2 linked regions of the Homo sapiens genome follow. The protein of the gene in region 1 interacts with the protein of each later gene in a pairwise test. Each region holds a gene or a part of one and is shown in the gene's direction. Other genes may lie near its edges.

The links. Proteins that work in one complex are often made in the same cells at the same time.
Region 2: the proteins of ATF7IP (region 1) and GTF2IRD1 interact in binary tests that used the Homo sapiens proteins (3 or more experiments, as listed by UniProt).

The regions. Positions count from the first base shown.
Region 1 is NC_000012.12:14,416,408-14,425,731, forward strand, and holds part of ATF7IP (activating transcription factor 7-interacting protein 1), read left to right. Parts: intron 1-439; exon of another isoform or gene 440-541; intron 542-1,560; exon of another isoform or gene 1,561-2,169; intron 2,170-2,806; exon of another isoform or gene 2,807-2,954; intron 2,955-7,501; coding exon of another isoform or gene 7,502-7,508; coding exon 7,509-9,066; intron 9,067-9,324. UniProt on the Homo sapiens protein: Recruiter that couples transcriptional factors to general transcription apparatus and thereby modulates transcription regulation and chromatin formation. Can both act as an activator or a repressor depending on the context.
Region 2 is NC_000007.14:74,595,343-74,603,866, forward strand, and holds the end of GTF2IRD1 (general transcription factor II-I repeat domain-containing protein 1), read left to right. Parts: intron 1-625; exon of another isoform or gene 626-684; intron 685-5,701; coding exon 5,702-5,838; coding exon of another isoform or gene 5,839-5,955; exon of another isoform or gene 5,956-6,952; intron 6,953-7,022; coding exon 7,023-7,091; 3' UTR 7,092-7,263; downstream 7,264-8,524. UniProt on the Homo sapiens protein: May be a transcription regulator involved in cell-cycle progression and skeletal muscle differentiation. May repress GTF2I transcriptional functions, by preventing its nuclear residency, or by inhibiting its transcriptional activation.

The DNA.
Region 1 (9,324 bases):
GTCAAAGATAGAAATGCCATGTCCACTTAAAAGGTTTTGCTTGATGTTTTCTAAGCTTTTGCTTTAGTTTTATTTTGAAGTATACTTCATCAGATATTCATTACTTTGAATTAATACAGCATTTGTTTTGTCTATGTGTTGTATATGCTTTTTGACCCAACAATCGTGGTACTTAGTTAAGTCTGTTCTTGGAAAGCAGTACAGACCCTAGTTTATTTAATCAAAGAAACCCTACCATGACCTGTTTTTCAAACAGAGCATCTAGAGTTATATTCCTAATGTTTCCATTTCATTGTTCACCTTGATTTTCACATCCTTTGCATTTTTAATAGAGCTCTTGCCCTCATCTTCTTCCCTTGTTGCTGGGCAAGGTTTGTGACACTGATGTCTGATTGGTTTTAGACTATTTCGGCTTTGAGCCAATCAGACAGTGAATTTCAGTTCTCTCACAGGACTGAAACATTGAAGCAGCTGTTGATATATTTTTCCTGTGGGGAGATTATATAAACTAAGAGTATGGCTGCAGCAAGCTCCCTCTTGGGTATGTTTGAAAAATTACAAGGTTCATCTGTAAGGAAGGGGGGAAATGAGGTTTATTTTTAAAACTTGGTTATTAAGAACACCTAATAAGTAGTGAATTTGAGAAAAAAATTCTGATAACAAATTTTCCATTTTTATTTTATAATCCTATATTTAAAGAACTATAGAATGGTGTAATATAATAAAAATGTCTTTAATTTTCATGAATATTTACTTTGTAATCCACACATTTGTTTTATAATAAAGCTTTGAAAGGATATCTCATATAACCTTTTGTAACTTGCTGCGAAAGGCAGTTAAGGAGAAAAGGATGTAGTAATTGTACTTATACCACTTAATATAGGTTGTCCAGAATCAGACATTTAGATTTCATTAGATGAATTAAACTAAGTCAGTTCAGTGCAGTAGACAGCACAACACTTCATAATACTATCCCTAGTAATCCTTTGGGTCCAGAATACTATTAATTTTTGGAATCGGAAATCTGTAACAATAGTGGTAGATGGGTATGAAGATTTTTTTTTTACTTGTCTGGATTTAAGGTTTTGCTAGATTTATATATTTTATATGTATGGTCTATGGAATTTTTAAAAAGAAATTTACATTTGAATTTTGCATTGTATAGAAAAATATGTTCTTACGTATATTGTCCATGTTTGACTTATTCCTCAGGTAGGAAATTAATTTATATTAATGTATATTTCTTGAAATGTTCATGGATATTTATTAAAGCAAATAGCATAAAAGATGTAAATCTTATCCATTTATGTGTGTGGTATATTTAATGCGTGTTACGTGGATTTAGGGTTTTATGTAAACTGTGTTCTAGATTACTTATTTCAAACAAAGAACCACACTTAAGTATTGCAGATACAGTTTTTGTTTAACTATGTTTTTCTGACCTTATTGTCTGTCTCCTGTTGCTGGGCAGGAATCAGAATGCTGGCTGCTGATTGGCTGAGTTTGTGAGCAGCTCTTGAACAGCCATTTAAATTCTTGAGCTTTTTGAGCAGGCAGATTGTAGGCTAAGACATAACAGCTTCCCTTTGTTGTTTCATTGCTATGATCTCTTGCTAGAAAGAAGTGGGTGGAGGGGGATGAAGCAGAGAAGAGAGTAATGTTTTCATTTAAAGAAGAAGCTCGTTGGGCTTTCCTTAAAAATATTTTAAAAATAATTTACCAAAAATTTGAAAAAAAAATTTCCAAGCCAGAGAGACTTATTTGCAGGTAACATACCCTTCTCTGGTTATTTAAATATAAATTTCTATAGAAAAAGGTTTTATTAGTGATATTATTTTCCCAGAGTTCTTGAATATACAGAGACTTAAAAAACATTATTTTGACTCTCATCCTCATGAAAAAAATACTTTCAGGAGAAACTAGTTCATCATGTTTTGCAGTTACTTTTAGACATGGCAGACATCTTCTGCCGTAAAATACCAATGCTTTTTTCTGTGAAAATGAATTACAGTCATGTGAAAGCTTTCTGATTTGAGTTGCCACCTAAAATACTAACATTTATTTTATAGAATAGTTTTATGAATGGCATCTTAGTTCTAGGCGACAGTACTAAAATGATCCTTGGAAGTGTTTTGCACTGGTATTACAGCCATGGAAACTTGTTTGCAGGTAACACACCCTTCTCTAATGTGTATCTTTCTCAAATATGCTTCGCTAATGCAAAATACATTTCTAAAAGCAGACTGCTGATTGGTTTGTACAGATATGGCTGAACTAGTTTGAACTAATTGTTCGTGTTACTTCCTTATTGCTTTGTCTGTTTTTTATTATATTTAGAACCCATAAGATCTGGTAAATGGCTGTAGTGTGCTCCCTTGTGGGTATGGATGGTAGTTATTCTATAATTCTTTTTAGAGTGCTTTATTATTACTGAAGTTAATGACAATTTTATTGATAAAATCAACTTTTCTTGAATTATATATTTTTATTAAATATTATTTGGTGGTGGCAATTTAATATTAACTGTGAGGTTTACATGTTGGATTTTCTAATTTATATAAAAAATACCAAAGAGGAATTTGTCTTAGACTCTTTAGTTTATTCCTAAAAACATTATCCTGAATATTTAGTTTATTCCTAAAAACGTTATCCTGAATATATAGATGGTGATGGTTATACCATTTATTGAGTTCTTACTACATTCCAAGTGCTTAATGTATAGAATCTCATTTAGTTCTCATGGCAACCTTTGTGACAGGTGTTGGTATTAGTCCCTTTTTAAGGTAACCAAAACTAAGAAATTGATGTTAGGTAATTTGCCCAGTCTCACACAGTAGGTTTCCTGGGAGAGTTGGAATTCAAATCTGTGAATCTGTCTACAGTCTACAGAGTTCATGTTCTTAATTGGGTTATTAAAAGTGATGAATTTTTTTAAAGGAATGCTTACTTTTAATGTAAGAGTTCATGTTCTTAATTGGGTTATTAAAAGTTATGAATTTTTTAAAAGGAATACTTTTAATGCAATTGGTAATAACTACCAGCTGTCCATCTAATATCTGAGAAATGCGGATATTATGAGGCTAAAGTTCAAAAGAATGGCCTTTCAGTATTTTGAAATACTTAAAGGGTAACTATACTACTTATATTATAAACTTAATTATTTTGTAGTTTTGGAATTAGTAAGGAAAAGTGACAGCAAAATACAATGCATTGTATCTGTATCTTTTGCAGAAAATTTTGCAGTTAGCAAAACTTTGTAATGATGGGAAGGGAAAAACCTTGAAGGTGTGAAATTTTAGTCTGTAATTAAAAACCCTTAACATAATGTTTTGTATTATATTATACAAATTTTGTATAATTTTGTATTAAGGTTTTGTATTATTATATATACATTTTGTATTAAGGTTTCTGTTTAAATGAAGAGTAATTTTTCTAAATAGTTGATTTAGTTATATAATTTAAATAAAATGGCTAGAATAAGAAATATGTTCTAAGTAATTGGCTTAAAGTGAGAGAATGAATACAGAATGTATCACAGTCTAGAAATTCTCTGACAAAGTGCTAGAATCTCAAGCTGAATTGGCTTCCAGCAAGTAGGCTAGGCTTATTATTTTATGCGCTTCAGCCAAAGACCAGCAGGAACACCTTTGTAATTGAAAAAGTTAGGTTTACTATTTGCTGCAGGGAGGAAATAATGTTCACTATGGGGAAACTGTAAGGCACATCAATCAGTAAGAGGATGTTAGAAAAAACCTAGTATAGGATTTGAGTATAGTATAGGTTGGGTTATTTTGGGGAGAGATTAAGGAAGTAGATCCTTATCGTGGATTGGGTGACATCAGAAAGTGGGGGCACTTCTATTCTTGGGTATCTCAATAAATTTTATCTATATAGGGAGGACAGACTATTACAAGATAAAGCTGTAATTGATAAAGAAGTTGGCCTGGTGTGGTGGCTCACACCTGTAATCCCAGCACTTTGGGAGGCCGAGGCAGGTGGATCACGAGGTCAGAAGATCAAGACCATCCTGGCTAACACGGTAAAACCTCATCTCTACTAAAAATACAAAAAATTAGCCGGGCGTGGTGGCGGGCGCCTGTGGTCCCAGCTACTCGGAAGGCTGAGGTAGGAGAATGGCATGCACCCAGGAGGTGGAGCTTGCGGTGAGCCGAGATCACGCCACTGCACTCCAGCCTGGGCGACAGAGCGAGACTCCGTCTCAAAAAGAAAAAAAAAATAAAGAAATAGCCATCACTCATTTAGTGAGGGGGGATGTTTGGAATTTTGTGGGTTGCACAGTGACCTTGTCTGACTTGAATGTTCTCTGAGTTGGTTTTATGTCCAACCAGAGAACAGCATGGCTTAACTGTAAGCATCAGATCCATTAACAACATTGAGCCCTAACTGTGAGTATCAGTTAAGTTTCCAGGCATCAGGGGCTGCTTTTCTTTCTTTCTCAGGCCAAAGCAAATGTATTCTACCATATCATTCCTACTGGTGATGGTAATGGTAAGTGACTATCCAATGTGAAAACAGTATTCCTGCCTCCTGTACATCTTAGTCCTTAAAGCAATTTTGTTTTATTCTACTATTGATTGATGACATTGTTTTTCTTCAGAACCACATCCTTGTGCTCTTTTGTTTGCCTTTATTGCACTGGCCAGATGTTAACAAGGAAATGGTTACAGGAAACATCCTTGTTTTCTTCTGATCCTATTTCAATATCAGACATGATATCTCTAGTTTTCTTGGTAGATAACCTTTATCAGATTTGAGTAAGTTTCCTTGTATTCTTAGTTTCTGGCAAGTTGTAATTATGCATCAGTCTTGAATTTTGTCAAATGAATATTCTGTATTTGTTGAGGTAATCCTTTGTTGATTTTGTCCCTCTGTTCTGTTTATGTGGTGAATTAAATAGCTTGATTTGTTTTGTGGTTTTCTTTTTTGCTTAACAGAAGTTTATCGTCTCAGAGTTCTGGAGGCAACACATTTGAAATCACGGTGTTGTCATTGCCATTCTCCCTCTGAGGGTGCTGAGGGAAGGATCTGTTCCAGGCCTCTCTCCTAGCTTCTGGTAGTTGCTTGGCTTGTGGTACCATAACTTCAATTGTCACATGGCATTCTCCCAGTGTGCATGTCTGTCTGTGTCCAGATTTTCCCCTTTTTATAAGGACACCAATTGTATTGGATTAGGGCTCACTTTAGTACCCTTATATTACCTTGATTACCACTGTAAAGGCCCTATCCGAATAAGGTCACATTCTGAGGTACTGGGGCTTAAGACTAATATCTTTCTGGGGATGTGGGGTGTGGGATGCTGCACAATTCAGTCAGTAACATCCTGGTACCAGACATTCAGTTTAGGCAAAACTCGTAATTGTACACTCTGCTGGGCATGAAATAAAGTCAGAATGCATCATGGCTTGTTCATGGTCAACACTGCTTGATTTTTGAATGTGAAATCAGCCTTGTATTTTTCTAAGCGAGCTTCACTTGGTCAGAATTCATTACCTTTTTAAGAAACCTACTTCTAAATAAGTCATAGATGAAAGAAGAAATCATGATGGAAATTAGAAAATATTTTAACAGAATAATGTAAATGACACATTAAAATGTGAGATGCAACTAAAGCAGCTCTTAGAGGGAAATTTATAGCTTTATATGCACACATTACAAAAGAAGAAAGATTGAAAATAACACTTAAGCTTGAATCTCAAGGAAAAGGATGACATGTTAAGCTCTTTCCAAGAAAAAGTAAGTGAAAAGAGATAATAAATATTAGAGTAAATAATTAAAACAAGAAAGCAGATATAAAACCAAGAAATATCAGCCAAGTAAAGGTTCATACTTTAATAAGTGAATAGAATTGATAAAACTGTAGCACAACTTACCAAAAAAAGAGAATACACACACACACACACACACACACACACACACACACACACACACAACCTTTGTATTTATTTTGAAATTTTTTTGTAGTGGCATTACTGAGATAAAACCACATATCTACTATTCACCCACTTAAAGTACAATTCAGTTATTTTTAGTATATTCACAGAGCTGTATAATCATCACCATAATCAATGTTAGAACATTTTCATAACCCTGTAAAGAAATCCTGTACCCTTTAGCAGCTACTCCTCATTTTCTCCAGAATCTTCCAACCCTAGGTAGTCACTGATTTACTTTCTGTCTCTAGATTTGCCTACTCTGGACATTTCATATAAATTGAATCATTCAGTATGTGGCCTTTTGTGACTGGCTTCTCTCACTCAGCATATTTTTAAGGTTTATGCATGTAGTAGCATGTTCAGTACTTCATTCCCCTTTGTGGTTGAATGATATTCTGTTGTAGGGGTATGGCACATTTTATTTATCCATTCATCAGTTATGGAACATTTAGGTTGTTTCCAGTTTTGGGCCATTATGAGTAGTGCCTCTATAGAGCATTTGTGTACAAGTTTTTGTGTGGACATATGTTTTCATTTCTCTTGGGAAATGAATGGAATGGAATCACTGGGTCATATGACAACTCTGTACTTCACATATTGTGGAACTGCCTGTTTTCCAAAGCAGCTGCACCTATTTGCAATCCCACTATCATTGTATGAAAGTTCCAGTTTTTTCACATCCTTGCCAACACTCATTATTCTCGTTGATTGTAGCCGTCCTGTCGTGTGTGCAGTGTTATTTCATTGTGGTTTTGACTTGCGTTTCCCTGATGTCTCATGATGTTTATTGCTTATGGACTTTTGGCTTAGGGGTCTCTTTCTGGAAATGTCTGTTCAAGTCCTTTGACCATTTTTAAATTGGGTGATTTATTATTGAATTATAGCAGTTCTTAGATATTCTAGATATAAAAGTCTGTATTCTATATAAATATATATTCTGTATTCTAGATATGAAATTCTAGATTCGAGATAAAAGTCTTATCAGGCATATGATTTGCAAATATTTTCTCCCATTGTTGTGAATTTTCTTTCTTGATGGTAATCTTTTGTTAATATGTTTATAGTTCTGCCAATCTAAGTATGCTTGGTTGCAAATGTAATCTTTCCTTACATGTTTCTTAATTCTTCCTCCTTTTTCCTTTATCTCTATACCTGTTATTTCCCTACTGTTGTTCTTACACTTTTATTTTTCTTTCTCATTTTCTTCAGGTACTTTTTTTTTTTTTTTTTTTTTTTTACTTTATCTACCTTTTTTTTGCTTAAACATCTCCATACTCTGTGAATTCCATATTGGAAAAAAAAACTTGTCCCTTTTCCCCCTAATACTTTCTAGTTGATTTTCTAGTAGACTATGGCCATTTTTGATTTTGTATTACACAGATGCAGTAAATATGATAATTAGTATACAACAAGCAGTAGGTTTTCTATGTCTTAAACATTACATGAAATGTGCTGCTTGCATCTCTTCTAAGATCAATTTGTATTAAGTCTACAATTAGGTGGCTTCTGTTTCAGTTATTAAACTCTCTTTCTCTTTTTTCTTAAAGATTCAGAATGGACAGTTTAGAAGAACCTCAGAAAAAAGTCTTTAAGGCTCGAAAAACGATGAGAGTGAGTGATCGTCAGCAACTTGAAGCAGTGTACAAGGTCAAAGAAGAACTGTTGAAAACTGATGTCAAGCTGTTAAATGGCAACCATGAAAATGGAGATTTGGACCCAACCTCACCTTTGGAAAACATGGATTACATTAAAGACAAGGAAGAGGTGAATGGCATTGAAGAGATTTGTTTTGATCCTGAAGGAAGTAAAGCAGAATGGAAGGAAACACCCTGTATCCTAAGTGTTAATGTAAAAAACAAGCAGGATGATGATTTAAATTGTGAACCTTTGTCTCCCCATAATATAACTCCAGAACCAGTCTCTAAACTGCCTGCTGAACCAGTTTCTGGTGATCCAGCCCCTGGTGATCTGGATGCCGGAGATCCAGCCTCCGGAGTACTGGCCTCTGGTGATTCCACCTCTGGTGATCCCACCTCTAGCGAGCCCTCCTCTAGTGATGCTGCCTCTGGTGATGCAACCTCTGGTGATGCCCCTTCTGGTGATGTGTCCCCTGGTGATGCCACCTCTGGTGATGCCACTGCTGATGATCTCTCCTCTGGTGATCCCACCTCTAGTGATCCCATCCCAGGTGAACCGGTCCCTGTTGAACCCATTTCTGGTGATTGTGCCGCTGATGATATAGCCTCTAGTGAAATAACTTCTGTTGATCTGGCTTCTGGAGCACCAGCTTCCACTGATCCAGCCTCTGATGATCTGGCCTCTGGTGATCTATCCTCTAGTGAACTGGCCTCTGATGATCTGGCCACTGGTGAACTGGCCTCTGATGAGCTGACTTCTGAATCAACCTTTGATCGTACCTTTGAACCAAAGTCTGTACCAGTTTGTGAACCAGTTCCTGAAATTGACAATATAGAACCAAGTAGCAATAAAGATGATGATTTTCTTGAAAAAAATGGAGCTGATGAAAAATTAGAGCAAATTCAGAGTAAAGACTCATTGGATGAGAAAAATAAAGCTGATAATAATATTGATGCTAATGAAGAAACTCTAGAAACAGATGATACAACTATTTGTTCAGATCGACCTCCTGAAAATGAAAAGAAGGTAGAGGAAGATATTATCACAGAGCTTGCTCTTGGAGAAGATGCTATATCTAGCAGTATGGAAATTGACCAAGGTGAAAAGAATGAAGATGAAACTTCTGCAGATCTTGTAGAAACGATTAATGAAAATGTTATTGAAGATAACAAAAGTGAGAATATCTTAGAAAATACAGACTCTATGGAGACAGATGAAATCATTCCTATTTTGGAAAAGCTTGCACCTTCTGAGGATGAACTTACTTGCTTTTCTAAAACATCTCTCCTTCCAATCGATGAGACAAATCCAGATTTGGAAGAGAAAATGGAAAGTTCTTTTGGTTCACCATCTAAACAAGAAAGTAGTGAGAGTTTGCCAAAAGAAGCCTTTCTGGTCCTCTCTGATGAAGAGGATATTTCGGGTGAAAAAGATGAGTCTGAAGTTATATCGCAAAATGAAACGTGCTCTCCAGGTTAGCATATAACTTAAATGTTAAAGATTTTTTATTGACTTTGATGAACTGTTTAATAAAACATTATCATAATGTTTTAAATTTATTTTAGCTGCAGAGAAAGTTGAGAATGGTGATGACTCTATAGAAAGATGTCTTAACTTCATAGAATTCAGAATTAGTGTGTGTACTCTGTGAGTAGCATTGTACTAAATACTAAGAAGGGAGATAAAATAAGTAGAAAATATGCCCTTATAGTCTGGAAATAGAGATGAAGTA
Region 2 (8,524 bases), on another chromosome or scaffold:
TTGCGGTGAACTGAGATCGCGCCCCTGCACTCCAGCCTGGGTGACAGAGCAAGACTCCATCTCGAAAAAAAGAAAAAAAGAAAGAAAGAAAAAAGCAGAGACACCAGGAGTTGGAGGCTGCAATGAGTTATGATTGTACCACTGCACTCCAGCCTGAGCAACGGAGCGAGACCCTGTCTCTAAAAAAAAAAAATTTCATAAAAAAATTTTTTAAAGGCAGAAATAGATGTGGTCCAGGTGGGCATGCAATAGATGGCTGACCACCTTGAGAAAAATATAGCCCCTCTCCACGCTGGGGCCTCCCCAGGGAGCCTGAGGTCTCCATGAACAGAGCCAGGTATCCCCAAGAGGCCTCCAGAAACCTGCAGGTGCCCTGCAGAGGGGAGGCCTTGCCATAGCACCAGTGAGTGTATGAGGTCAGCTGGAAGGACAAGAGGCAGGCTGGGCCTCAGGGAGGATCATGGAGTCCTCCTGGGTAGCAGAGGGGTAGCACGTGACCAACAGTGGTGAGGCAGGCAGGCATTGCCCGAGACTGGCCAGACCCCCTCTGTTCTGCTGGCATCTGCAGGGTATACAGAACCTTTCACTAGGCACCTGGGGGCCGCCTGGCATGATGGTTCTGATTAAGGTGTATGATGGGACTTGGGAGAAAGTACTCCCGGGTGACTATGATGTGCACCTGATTAAGAAACACTGATTGGGCCAGGCGCAGAGGCTCACACCTGTAATCCCAGCACTTTGGGAGGCCGAGGCAGGCATATCACTTGAGATCAGGAGTTCAAGTCCAGACTGGCCAACATGGTGAAACCCCATCTCAACTGAAAATAGAAAAATCAGGGCCGGGCGCGGTGGCTCACGCGTGTAATCCCAGCACTTTGGAAGGCTGAGGTGGGTGGATCACCTGAGGTCAAGAGTTCGAGACCAGCCTGGTCAACATGCTAAACCCTGTCTCTATTAAAAATACAAAAATTAGCCAGGCATGGTGGCACGTGCCTGTAATCCCAGCTACTTGGGGGCTGAGGTAGGAGGATCGCTTGAACCTAGGAGACAGAGGTTGCAGTGAGCCAAGATTATGCCACTGCACTCCAGCCTGGGCAACAGAGCAAGACTCTGTCTCAAAAAAAAAAAAAAAAAGAAAAAGAAAAAAAAAATTAGCCTGGCATGGTGGTGCACGCCTGCAGTCCCAGCTACTTGGGAGTCTGAGGTGGAAGAATCACTTTAGTCCAGGAGGCAGAGGTTGCAGTGAGTCGAGATCACACCACTGCACTCCAGGCTGGGTGACAGAGCAAGACTCTGTCTCGAAAAGAAAAAGAAAAAGAAACACTGATTGGCCAGGTGTGGTGGCTCACGCCTCTAATCCCAGCAATTTGGGAGGCCTAAGTGGGAGGACTGCTTGAGTCCAGGAGTTTGAAACCAACCTGGGCAACGTAGTGAGATCTTGTCTCTACAAAAAGTTTTTTCTCCCATCCAAGTACTAACCAGGCCCGACCCTGCTTCAGTTCTGAGATCAGGCAAGATCGGGTGCATTCAGGGTGGTATGGCTGTGGACCAAAAAGGTTTTTCTAAAAATTAGCCAGGCATGGTAGTAGGCACTTGTAGTCCCAGGAGGCTGAGGCTGGAGGATCACTTGAGCCCAAGAGTTTAAGGCTGCAGTGAGCTATGATTATGCCATCCTGCCTGGATGACAGAATGAGACCCCATCTCTTTTTTTTTTTTCCGAGACAGCGTCTCACTCTGTCGCCCAGGCTGGAGTGCAGTGGTGTGATCTCGGCTCACTGCAACCTCCGACTCCCGGGTTCAAGTGATTCTCCTGCCTCAGTTTCCCAAGTAGCTGGGATTACAGGCGCCTGCCACCACGCCCAGCTATTTTTTTGTATTTTTAGTAGAGACGGGGTTTCTCCATATTGGCCAGGCTGGTCTCGAACTCCTGACCTCATGATCTACCTGCCTCGGCCCCCCAAAGTGCTGGGATTACAGGCGTAAGCCACTGCTACCGGCCTTTTTTTTTTTTTTTTTTCTTTCAAGACAGAGTCTCACTCTGTCACTCAGGCTGGAGTCAATCTTGCGATCTTGGCTCACTGCAACCTCCGCCTCCTGAGTTCAAGCAATTCTCATGCCTTAGCCTCCCGAGTAGCTGGGACTTCAGGCATGCACCACCACACCCAGCTAATTTTTTGTATTTTTAGTAGAAGTGAGGTTTCACCATGTTGGCCGGGCTGGTCTCAAACACCTGACCTCAAGTGATCTTCCCACCCCAGCATCCCAAAGTGCTGGGATTACAGGCGTGAGCTACTGTGCCTGGCCGAGACCCCGTCTCCTAAGAAATAAAAAAGAAGAAGAAAGAAAAAATACTGATCTAATCTTACCCCACCTCATTGTACAGCTGGGAAGCTGAGGCACAGAGATGCCCAGGGACTTGCCCAGGCCACATAGTGAGTCAGATGCTGTGTAGACCCTGCTCTCAGGACCACCCATCTGAACCATAGACCACCGTGGGCCACACGGCCCAGTATGGCTGCTCAACAGGGACAGTGATAGGATTCAGCAAGTCCACGCCACAACCTTACCTGAGACCCAAGGCCCTGACTCCTGTCAGGACCAGGTTCACCTGGAACTCCACAGCCTGGGGTGGCACAGCCCAGCTAGAAGCCACCTCCTTCCATCAAGAGCTAGTCACAAGCCTGGGCCATAAAGTGAGACCCTCCCTCCGTCTCTGCAAAAAAATTAAAAATTAGCCAGGCGTGGTGGCGCGTACCTGTTGTCCCAGATAGTCAAGAGGATGAGGCAGGAGGAGTGCTTGAGGCCGGAAGGTGGAGGCTGCAGTGAGCTATGATTGTGCCACTGCGCTCCAGCCTGGGCGACAGAGTGAGACCCTGTTTCCAAAAAAAAAAGAGCCAGTTAAAAGGGTCAGGTCTGGCACTGAACACACGGATCTGGAGGCGATTTGGTTTACTCTCAGGTCAAAGGCAGAGAGGAGGCCAGTCGCGGTGGCTCACGCCTGTAATCCCAACACTTTGGGAGGCTGAGGCAGGGAGGCAGGTGGATCACCTGAGGTCAGGAGTTCAAGACCAGCCTGGCCAACATGGTGAAACCTTGTCTCTACTAAAATCCAAAAAAAAAAAAATTAGCCGGGGGTGGTGGTGGGCGCCTGTAATCCCAGCCGCTCAGGAGGCTGAGGCAGGAGAATTGCTTGAACCCAGGAAGCGGCGGTTGCAGTGAGCTGAGATCACACTACTGTACTTCAGCCTGGGGAACACAGCCAGGCTCTGTCTCAAAAAAAAACAAAACAAAACATGGCAGAGACACAGAAGGCCACATGAAAGCCTCAGGAGGATTTGGGACAGATGCCCAGAGGGTGGATACTGTCACCCACATCCACCACTCCCTCCAATGTGGCCATCTCTCATGGTGATTCAAGGATGGCCACAGCCCATGGACCAGTCTGAGACAGAGGGTGGGGCAGCCTCTGACTTCTTTTTCATGTGGAATCTCCCACAAAAATCCCTCTGACTCATAGCCTGGGCTCCTCCTGCCTCCAGGGTCTTCTCTTTCGCAGGGTCTCTATGCCTCACCACAGACCCCCAGTTTCTGACTTCTCCACCAGTTGAAGAGACATTTGCCCCATGGACCCAGCCTGCCCTTACTCTGTGTCATTAAGACCCTTCCGGTGGGCTGAGTGCAGTGGCTCACGCCTGTAATCCCAGCACTTTGGGAGGCTGAAGCAGGAGAATTCTTTGAGCCCAAGAGTTCAAGACCAGACTGGGCAACATACAGAGACCCCGTCTCTACAAAAAATTAGCCAGGCAGGGTGGTGTGCACCTGTAGGGAGGCTGAGGCAGGAGGATCACTTGAGCTTGGGAGGTGGAGGTTGCAGTGAGCCAAGACCACACCACTGCACTCCAGCATGGGTGACAGAGTGAGACCTTGTCTCAAAAAGACAATAAAAGCCCTTCTTTATTGGGCTGGGCGAGGTTTCCATGCAGTAATCCATCCAATCAGGACGTGCTGCTCAAAGTCTTACATCTTCACCTCAAGTTAATCCAGCAACCACAGAACACCTGCTGACCCCTCCTCCGTGCTGAACTAGGTGCTGGGTTCTTTTATGCATGCGGTGTTTTTTGAGTCTCACATCACACTGGTTTCCCCATTTGACTCAGAGAGGTTCATCAGTTTTCCCAGATTCACACAGTGATAATAGTAAGTGGCCACAGTGAAATTTGAACTTAGGACTTCTGATTCTAAACCAGAGTTTCTTTCACTGGGGCACTGCCTGTCTACTTGGACCTGTGAACTCTCCACTCAGGACCACCATACATTAGTGATAACCATAGCAATACAATTTTTTTGTATTTTGGTAGAGACAGGGTTTCAACCTTCACCATGTTGCCCAGGCTGGTCTCGAACTCCTGACCTCAGTCAATCCACCCACCTTGGTCTCCCAAAGTGCTGGGATTACCAGTGTGAGCCACTGCGCCTGGCCCCAGGTCCTCTTTATACCCTCCCTGGACAACCTAGCCTGCAGTTCCAGCCTCCCCAGAACTCCCAGAGCCTCTCCTGGGGTCCCACATCCCCTCACAGCCTTAAAGAGCCCAGGAAAGAATGTGGCCTCCGGAGCCACGCAGACTTGGCCTTGGAGAAAGTCCTTTAACAGCCCTGCCCCTTCGGGTGCTCGTGAGTGAAATGTGAATAGGATCTTGGAGGGTTGCTGGGAGGATCCCAGCAGACAATGTGCAAAGCATTTAGCACAGTGCCCAGCACCCAGAAAATACTCAGAAACTGAGAATGCGATTAATATTGTTGCCATGAGCCAGGCACGGTGGCTCATGCCTGTAATCTCAGCATTTAGGGAAGCTGAGGCAGGAGGATTGCTTGAGGTTGGGAATTGGAGACCAGCCTGGGCAACATAATGATGCAGAAATACAAAAAGTTAGCCAGGCATGGTGGCGCGCACGTATAGTCCCAGCTACTCGGGAACCTGAGGTGGGAGGATTGCTTGAGCCCAGGACTTGGAAGCTGCAGTGAGCTACGATTGCACCATGGCACTCCAGCCTGGGCAACAGAGTGAGACCCTAAAAAACAATATAGGCCAGGTTCGATGGCTCATGCCTATAATCCCAGCACTTTGGGAGGCCGAGGTGGATGGATCACTTGAGGTCAGGAGTTCAAGAGCTGCCTGCCCAACACGGTGAAACCCCATCTCTACTCAAAATACAAAAAAATTAGCTGGACGTGGTGGCAGACACCTATAACCCCAGCTACTTGGGAGGCTCAGGCACTAGAATCGCTTGAACCCAGAAGGCAAAGGTTGCAGTGAGCCAAGATCGCGCCACTGGACTCCAGGCTGGGTGACAGAGCGAGACTCCATCTCAAAAAACCAGAAAGAGAGAGGACCTAGGGCCTAAGGGGTGAGCTTGCTGGGGAGGAGGAGGGACACATGGGGATGAGGATACGGTGTTAGCAAAGGCAGGCAGGCCAGCAAGAGCAGGAGGCCGGGGAGAGTGGGCCCTCGGGCTTGCTTTGGGAAGGAGGCTGGACATGTGGGCTCTGGACAGGTGGGCCCTGACCCCCAGGGGATCAGGAGCCTGAAATCCTGAAAGGGGGACTCGAAACCTTAAGACAGAGCACTTTTCCAGGGAGCTCAGGAGGCTGAGACAGAAAAGCCTCAGCTTCCAGTGTCAACAGCCTTTTCCCCTCCTTCCAGCCAAAGACAGCAGCATTCCCAAGCGCAAGAGAAAGCGGGTCTCGGAAGGAAATTCCGTCTCCTCTTCCTCCTCGTCTTCCTCTTCCTCGTCCTCTAACCCGGATTCAGTGGCATCGGCCAACCAGATCTCACTCGTGGTAAAGTTGCACCGATTTGGACTCCGGCACTCATCTCTGTGGCCCTCACCCCTCTGTCTGGCAGGGCCGTCTACTCTGGGATGTGGGCCCAGGGGACGGGGAGGCACTGGGCTTTGAGTGGGGACCTTCCGGCCTCGGGGGTTATAGATGCATCCACCTGTCTCACCCAAGAGGTAGCCCATCCTTCTCGTGGGGTACTCACAGGCACTCAGGCAGGAATTCACATCCTCGCTGGGCAGATGGGCCGGCTGAGGTCCACCTGCCCACACCCTTCAGCCGCACCAGAGCTGGAGACATGAAAAGACATGGCTGGCGGGTGCAGTGGCTCACGCCTGTAATCCCAGCACTTTGGCAGGTCAAGTCGGGTGGATCACCTGAGGTCAGGAGTTTGAGACCAGGCTGACCAACACGGGGAAACCCCATCTCTACTAAAAATACAAAATTAGCCGGGCAAAGTGGGGCATAGTGGCTCATGCCTGTAATCCCAGCTACTTGGAAGGCTGAGATAGGAGAATCGCTTGAACCTGGGAGGCAGAGGTTGCAATGAGCCGAGGTCGCGCCATTGCACTGCAGCCTGGGCAACAAGAGTGAAACACTGTCTCAGAAAAAAAAATTAGCCAGGCATGGTGGCACGTGCCTGTGGTCGCAGCTACTTGGGAGGCTGGGGCAGGAGGATCATTTGAGCCCAAGGGGATTGAGGCTGCAGTGAGCCAAGATCGTCCCATTGCACTCCAGCCTGGGCAAGAGAACGAGACTCCATCTCAAAAATAAATAAATAGGCTGGGTGTGGTGGCTCACGCCTGTAATCCTAGCACTTTGGGAGGCCGAGGCAGGCGGATCACTTGAGGCTCAGGAGTTCAAGACCAGCCTGGCCAACATGGCAAAACCCCGTCTCTACTAAAAATAGAAAAATTAGCCGGGCATGGTGGCGGGCGCCTATAATCCCAGCTACTCGGGAGGCTGAGGCAGGAGACTCGCTTGAACCCGCGGGGCCAAGGTTGCAGTGAGCCGAGATTGCATCACTGCACTCCAGCCTGGGCAGAAGAGTGAAACTCCATCTCAAAAAAATAAAAAATATAAATAAATAGCCTCTGAGAAAGCTCTTCCAAAAGCAGAACTAAGCATTTTGGGTTTGTTCCGCATCACCTGGAGTCCTAATCCAGTCCCTTTGTCCCTCTCTCTAGCAATGGCCAATGTACATGGTGGACTATGCCGGCCTGAACGTGCAGCTCCCGGGACCTCTTAATTACTAGACCTCAGTACTGAATCAGGACCTCACTCAGAAAGACTAAAGGAAATGTAATTTATGTACAAAATGTATATTCGGATATGTATCGATGCCTTTTAGTTTTTCCAATGATTTTTACACTATATTCCTGCCACCAAGGCCTTTTTAAATAAGTAAAAAAAGAAAAAAAAAAAAAAGAGTGTTGCCTTTACTTTTACGGTCACTGTTTCATGTTCTCTTTTGGATCGTGGCCGCAGCTGTCACTGGGGACAGGGTCAGGAAACGCAGCTCAGGTGGCCTGCCAAGGCCCTCCTTCTTCATCACAGCAGAGGTAGTGTCCAGGAAGACCCCAGAGCTCTCTGTGCTCCTGGGAGCACGTGACCTCAAGAAGAAAAGCCACGGAAGGAAAATGTGCCACGGGGCCGGGCGTGGTGGCTCATGCCTGGAATCCCAGCACTTTGGGATGTCGAGGTGGGTGGATTGCTTGAGGTCAGGAGTTCGACCTCATTGGCCTGTAATACCGATGCTTTGGGAGGCCAAGGTGGGAGGATTGCTTGAGACCAGGAGTTTGAGATGAGCCTAGGCAACATAGTAGAACCCTTTCTCTAGAAAATGTTAAATGTGGCTTACACCTGTAATCCCAGCACTCTGGGAGGCTGAGGCGGGTGAATCACCTGAGGTCAGGAGTTTGAGACTAGCCTGGGCAACATAAGGAGACCCCGTCTGTACGAAAATGCAAAAATGAGGCCGGGCATGATGGCTCATGCCTGTAATCCCAGCACTTTGGGAGGCCGAGGCGGGTGGATCACCTGAGGTCAGGAGTTCGAGACCAGCCTGGCCAACATGGTGAAACCCCATCTCTACTAAAAATGCAAAAATTAGCCAGGTGTGGTGGCGGGAACCTGTAATCCCAGCTACTCAGGAGGCTGAGGTAGGAGAATCACTTGAACCTGGGAGGCAGAGGTTGCAGTGAGCTGAGACCACGCCATTGCACTGCAGCTGGGGCAAGAAGAACAAAAGTCCGTCTCAAAAAAACAAAACAAAAGCACAAAAATTAGCCAGGCGTGGTGGTGCACACACCTGGAGTCCAGCTACTCAGGAGGCTGAGGCAGGAGGAGGATTGCTTGAGTAAAGATGGTTGAGGCTGTAGTGAGTCATGATTACACCACTGCACTCCAGCCTGGGCGACAAAGCAAGACCCTGTCTCAAAAAAAAAAAAAAGTGTTAAATATGGTAAATGTCAGAGAGGGAGGGGCCCATCCCAGTGAAGCACTGTGGCTGGATGGGAGGCTTCTTCAAAAAGGGGTTTGGAGACCAGGTGCGGTGGCTCACGCCTGTAATCCCAGCACATTGAGAGGCCAAGGTGTGCAGATCGCCTGAAGTCAGGAGTTCGAGACCAGCCCAGCCAACATGATGAAACCCTATCTCTACTAAAAATACAAAAAAATTAGCCAGGTG